2 linked regions of the Homo sapiens genome follow. The protein of the gene in region 2 purifies or fractionates together with the protein of the main gene of each other region. This does not show direct contact. Each region holds a gene or a part of one and is shown on either strand. Other genes may lie near its edges.

Region 1 (3,300 bases), on a different chromosome or scaffold from region 2:
TAGTCAAATGAAATGGTCACTATGATAAATTTCTCCACTAAACCACCAAGTTCTCAAATTTGGTAGTGGCTTTAATGAAGCAGAAAATGAAATACAGGCTGGGTACAGTGGCTCACACCTATAATCCCAGAACTTTGGGAGGCCAAAGCAGGAGGATTGCTTGAGCCCAGGAGTTCGAGACCAGCCTAGACAAAAAACATTTTTTGTAGAGACCTTATCTCTACAAAAAATTGAAAAATTAGCTGAGTGTGGTGACATGTGCCCGTGGTCCTAGCTACTTCGGAGGCTGAGGTGGGAGGACCGCTTGAGCCTGGGAGGTTAAAGCTGTTGTGGGTTATGATCACACCACTGCATACCAGCCTGAGTGACAGAGCGAGGCCCTGTCTCAAAAAAAAGAAAAAGTTTAATCTCCCTCTCACACCAATCACCTACAACAGTTAACTGTGGGCAGCAGTTTTTTAGCCACTAATTACTGTTCACTGATAAAATGATGATAATGATCACTACATAAACCAGCAAATCTCTAGAGCAGCACTGTCCAACAGAACTTTCTGTGATGATGGAAATGTTCTACATCTCATGCTTTTCAATACAGTAAATAGCCTGTAGCCACATGGTAGCTACTGGATACTTGAAGAATTGCTAAGGAGACTAAAGAACTACATTTTAAATTTTACTTAACTTTAATTCATTTAAATAGACATATGTGGCTAGTGACTACCATAATGGATAGTACATTATGCACTGCCCATTATGGTAGTCACTAGCCACATATGGAGCTCTAGAGTACCTAAGAGAAGAAACACACACACGCACATTTCACTTAGTATCTAACTCACATTTATTAAAAATTGAAGATTACAGAAAAGCATAAGATTGGCATCATTAAACAAGCTTAATTAACTTACCTTTGACTAATAAATGAAAATATTTAATAACACTAAAGGAATTTTGAGAATAAGTTCTATTCCAACCTTAGAAATTAAAAATAAAAGCAAAGCAGCTATTCTCCAAAGGAGAAAGCAACCACAGATCTCCCTCTAGTGGCAAAAGATAAAGTTGCTGCTGAAAAGCTGAATTGCTCCTCCATACATAGAACTGCTCAGACATTTCTTCTATAAAATTCTAACTTAAGATTCTAAATCAATATATAAGGAAAATAGATCTATTTTTTGTCAAAAAAAATTAGACCTACTGCCCAGTAATAGCATGGATTAAAAAAATTAGACAATTTTCACTTACTATGAATGCTAATCTCTCTAGAAATCTGCTCTCTCTAGAAATCTGATCTGTCCAGAAAAAAAAATAAGTTTTGCCAATGACATTTGGGTATCTGGGGCTTTCACCAAATAAAAGTTTATAAAGCCATAACCAAACTGTGAGAAACAGAAAAGGGAGCAGTTCTCCTCTGTTGGTAAATATTCTGGGATAGAGCATGAAAGGAGCTGACTCAGAAGTATAAAGTAGTAAGCAGCAGTGAGTGGGCTGTGTAACAACTCAGGGTACATCAAAAGAAATAATATATTATAAGAGTTCTTAACCAAAACAACACTTTTCATTCTGGTATTCAGTTTCAAAAGACAGCTCTGCCACATTGCCAGTTTTAATTACAACCATACACACTCATTTAGATTTCACTACTGAACTACTTTCAAGTACAAGAAGGAACTCAAAATAGAAACGACTTATGATACAACTATTGTTATTCCCTCACAGCTTCAGGGAAAACAGGCTTTATATACACTGTAGTAAGTACAGAATGTACAGAAGACAGTTATATATACAAAAGTGCATTAATATAGTAATATATTTAGCAGTAATACAGGAAAAAAAAATCCTGGTTAACAATCTGATACATTACAGTATTTAAAACTACTTGAAGATTCTCCAAACCAGTCAACTTCCTACTTGCTTTGGTTATGATATTGCTGCTACATAACTAATCTTTGAAACTAAAAAGCAAAAACAAAAACCCACAATTTGAAATTTTTACCCATATGTGAATTGTTTTGCATATACTTGTTTACCATTAATAGCCTTTGACAATAGTCCTTAAATTCCCAACACAAAGGTTCAGAATAGATAATACTTGTTAAGTGAGAGTACTCAAATAGGAAATTAAATGGATCCACTACAGGAACAGACATTATCTGCTCCATTGTTAAAAGCCTCAGCTAGATAACCTAACCACAAATGTCAATTTCAGTCTCAGTTTAAATCCAATAGGTCAGCTACTGTTAAAAGAGCCAGCAGCTCCACAAAACTAGTCATGGCTTCAGGCCACTGTTCCTTAGAACAATTTAGAATATTAAGTGTTAACTTGTTATTTATACATATAGTCTACAACTACCTTTACATAGTCAAATGTATATGCATAATTAGAGCAAGTCTCCCCTTTTTCACCCCCATCCCTCACCACAAAAATGAACACAGATTTCCACAGGTTTTGTTGGACACAAAGATGTAACAAAGAAATGTGACAATTAAAAAAAGTACTACATACAGAATTTAGAGAAGATCAAACAAGCTTTTCTGAGTTCGGTATGAGTGTCAAATTAAAATTTAATTTGCCATTATATGCTCTAGGTTAAAACAGTAATTACCTTAATTTAAAAAATAACTAGAGGGAGAGCCAAAAAGAAATAATTTTAATGTTAAAAAAATAAGAAAATAAAATTTCAGTGAGTCAACTCAGATCTTCAGCAGTACCATTCAACTTCCTTACTCTTAATGGCCAGTTAGAAGAATTTTCAGAATTCCTTCTAAGGCTTCTGGAATAAGTAACTTATTTTCCAAAGAAATAAGACCTAAGCATTATAAGTAGTTATGTTCCGGATACTATGCTAACAAAGATGCCTAGCTTAAAATATCTCAGTTTTTATTCACTTAGCATAATTTTATTTTTAAGACAAAGTTTATCTTACTTTATCAGACTTAAAATGAATCCAAAGTTACCACAGTACATATGTATACAAATACTTATTTCCTAACTAACAGTCCTTTCAGAATTAAATTTACTTCTAGTTCAGACATGCTGAATGAGTCAGTGCCCTCAACATCAACACTATTATTTGAATGCAACTGGGGATTTTCCTATTAATTGTCCCAAACTATAAACGGACTGCGAGTACCCTTCAATTCCAAACAAATGTTTTTCCTTGAAGACAGAAGTGCTAAAAGTTCATTTGTTAAAGGAAAGAAGAGGAGTGTGTTCCAGCTATTACACAAATGAGTTCAAAGAATTCCTAGAGAATCAACTTGCTACATAATCTCTGTCCTTGAAGTGCTTTTGCCTATACC
Region 2 (3,446 bases):
CCAGCTACACGGGAGGCTGAGGCAGGAGAATGGCATGAACCTGGGAGGCGGAGCTTGCAGTGAGCCGAGATCGCTCCATTGCACTCCAGCCTGGGCGACAAGAGCAAAACTCTGTCTCAAAAAAAAACATTTTTAATAGAAAGAAAGAAATGCCATGCTGGAAAGTCACCTTGAAAAGAGGAAATGGAGTCTGAGCTTTGGTTTGAGCTTTTAACGAGAGCACAGAGTCTCTGGAATCACCTTCAAGAGGCACGAAAAGATGGTTCTGAGAGAAGTGAGTGTTACTGCCAGTAGCTGCGCTGGGCCCTTCGGTGTTCACACCTGCCCGTCCATGTCAGCACCAGGTGGCTGTCCCTGGGGAGCTCTGCAGCTCAGTGGCAACTCTCTGGTCATCCTGTCTCCTACCTGCAAACTTTCAAAGATGGAAGCACTGGGACAGGGTTCCTCCTTGTGCGGAACTTCAGGAATGAAAGAATCTGTCCTAATAGGGGGTGAATGAAAGTTTATGTATACTACTTAAAAATATGTAAACAACATTAAAAGAGCAAAGAAACATAATTGCACCCAAAAAAAAAAGTAACAAAAAGTAAAGAAAAGAAATAGTCAAGGTAGCCTGTCCACATGGTAAGAAACCCCACAGCACAGAAGGAAACTGAACTGAGGGGAGTGAGCCGCCCTTCCACTGCCCAGCACTCACCTTTGCTTTACAGGAACAAGAGCTGTGCAAACCAGCATGTAGAGATTTCTGCATTTATAGCATTAGCACTCTCCCTTTTTTTTTTTTATTAACTCAAAAGGGATCACGTCATACACAGCTTGCTTCTTTCACTTTTTTATTTTATTTTTGAGACAGGGGCCTGCTCTGTGGTCCAGGCTATAGTGCAGTGGTTCCATCAGAGCTCACTGCAGCTTCTAACTCCTGGGCTCAAGCAATCCTCCCACCTCAGCCCCCAGAGCTGCTGAGATAACAGGCGCATATCACCACACCTGGCTAGTTTTTTAAATTTATTTTTTGTAGAGACGGGGTCTTGCTATGTGACCCAGGCTGGTCTCGAATTCCTGAGCTCAAGTGATCCTCCTGCCTCAGCCTCTTAAAGTGCTGGGATTACAGGCATGAGCCATGCACCCCTACTTCTTTAGTGGGAGTCTGTGCCACAGCTGTGGACACAGGTGTCCCTAGTTATTAAATTAGACTTTGTGGTATTTTCCCCATCAGGATGTTCACACTTCCATGTGGCTAAAGCTATTGATCTTTTCTGTTCTGGCTCCTGAGCTGAGATTTTCTTAAACTCTTTCTGGATGAAATCTTTATTTCATCAGGCTGGTGGCGTCCACGGCCTCAACTTTACCTCCGTGATGGAAGAGGGGGATCTGAGGCTCCCAGGTGGGCCGGCGCCGCCCTACAGGAAAGGAGGGGTCCCTGGGAGGGGCTGTTGCCCTGGTGGGGTTCACAGGCCCCTCACTGCAGGGGACCCGGAGCAAGGGATGCCCCCTGGAATGGCCCCGTGACCAGAAAGCGAGCCTGCCCAGCTTCCCCAGGAGGAGCCTGCAGTCCACACTCGCGTAGCCACTCCGGGTGGTGGCAGGGTCTCTCCCTGCTCCCTTCCATAGTCCCGCCACAGCCCACAGCCCTGAGGAAGCCTGGGGGTGGAGGGTGCCCCGGCCAGGGTCTCTGTGACTCACACTCAGGGTGGGCCAGGCGTCCACAGGCTGGGGGCGGGCTGGAGGACAGTGGCAGCCCCAGGTGGCCACACAGCATGGTGGTGGTGGTGGTGGTGGTGCACGGCAGGCAGCCTTGGCCTGGCAGCTCGTGGGACCCTCGGGGGCACATGTGGCGGGTCCTGCCACAGACGCACCTGCTGCTTAGGACGCAGCCCAGGCTGCTCCCCACCTCCACTCCCGCCCTGTTCCTAACTGGGGCTGGATCCCATGTGATAGGCAGGATGGCAGGGTCTAAGCATCCTCCCAGAGGAGGCTCCTCCCCCGCCCCAAATTGTGCAACCCATTCCTCATCTGGGCTGGGACTCGATGGGGATGGGGGCTTCACAGCCAGACTGTAGACCTGAGCCAGGAATGCCCTTTCAGAGCTACACAGATGCAGAAATTTCCAGAAGAAAAACCACCCAGGCCCTGTTTCCTTGGCCTAGGGTTCTGCTGGGGGCTAAGCCTACCTGCAGGGCTGGGGGCAGGGCCTTGAGCATCCAGTTCTGCAGGACCAACTGGTGCACCTGTGCGTTCTGCAGCAGCAGCAGCTCCACCATGTCTGCAGGGAAGAAGCAGGGGGACCCTGAATAAAGTTTCCGTTTTTCCTATTTGTTAAAGTGATAGAGCATTATAGGACCAGAGAACAGGTGTGTCTGTACACTGTGCAGGTCCCCGGGGCAGGCTCTGAGTCCGTCTGCACACGGTGCGGGTCCCCGGGGCGCGCCCTGAGCCCGTCTGCACACGGTGCGGGTCCCCGGGGCGCGCCCTGAGCCCGTCTGCACACGGTGCGGGTCCCCGGGGCGCGCCCTGAGCCCGTCTGCACACGGTGCGGGTCCCCGGGGCGCGCCCTGAGCCCGTCTGCACACGGTGCGGGTCCCCGGGGCGCGCCCTGAGCCCGTCTGCACACGGTGCGGGTCCCCGGGGCGCGCCCTGAGCCCGTCTGTACACGGTGCGGGTCCCCGGGGCGCGCCCTGAGTCTCTACTAAAAATACAAAAATTAGCCAGGCGTGGTGGTTCAAGCCTGTAATCCCAGCTCCTTGGGAGGCTGAGGCATGAGAATCGCTTGAACTCAAGAGGCAGAGCTTGCGGTGAGCCAAGATCGTGCCACTGTACTCCAGCCTGGGCAACCAGGGCGAAACTCCGTCTCAAGAAAAAAAAAAAATTAAAACATCTAAGCCAGTTGTAGTGGTGCATGCCTGTAGTCCCAGCTACTCAGGAGGCTGAGGCAGGAGGATCACTTGAGCCCAGGAGTTCGAGGCTGTAGTGAGCCATGATCATGCCCCTGCACTCTAGCCTGGGTAACAGAGCAAGATACTATCTCCCCAGAAAATAAATAATAAAATATCTGTTCATCTACAGACACCATGAAGAGAGTGAAAAGGCAACCACAAGAAGGATGGAACACTCAAAATGCACATATCAAAAAAGGGCTCATTACAGAAATTATAAAGAATCCCTAGAAACCAATAAGGGAGGCAGGCAACCTGAAAGAAAAATGGGCAAATTACTTAAATGGACACTTTACAAAAAAGGATATTCAAGTAGCCAATAAGGCCAGGCACGGTGGCTCATGCCTGTGATGCTCGCACTTTGGGAGACCGAGACAGGAGAAGTCCTTGAGACCAGGAGCTGACACCAGTCATAGCAAGACCTCATCTCTACACACACACACACACACACACACACACAAAATATATATATATATATATATATATATATATATATATATTTTTTTTTTTTTT

What was found.
Region 1: the proteins of C21orf58 (region 2) and FAM199X purify together in Homo sapiens (affinity purification with mass spectrometry; one large-scale study listed by BioGRID and IntAct). This does not show direct contact.

What each region holds. Positions count from the first base shown.
Region 1 is NC_000023.11:104,193,420-104,196,719, reverse strand, and holds the end of FAM199X (protein FAM199X), read right to left. Parts: 3' UTR 818-3,300; downstream 1-817.
Region 2 is NC_000021.9:46,300,314-46,303,759, forward strand, and holds the end of C21orf58 (uncharacterized protein C21orf58), read right to left. Parts: intron 2,264-3,446; coding exon 2,172-2,263; intron 1,842-2,171; coding exon 1,686-1,841; 3' UTR 817-1,685; downstream 1-816.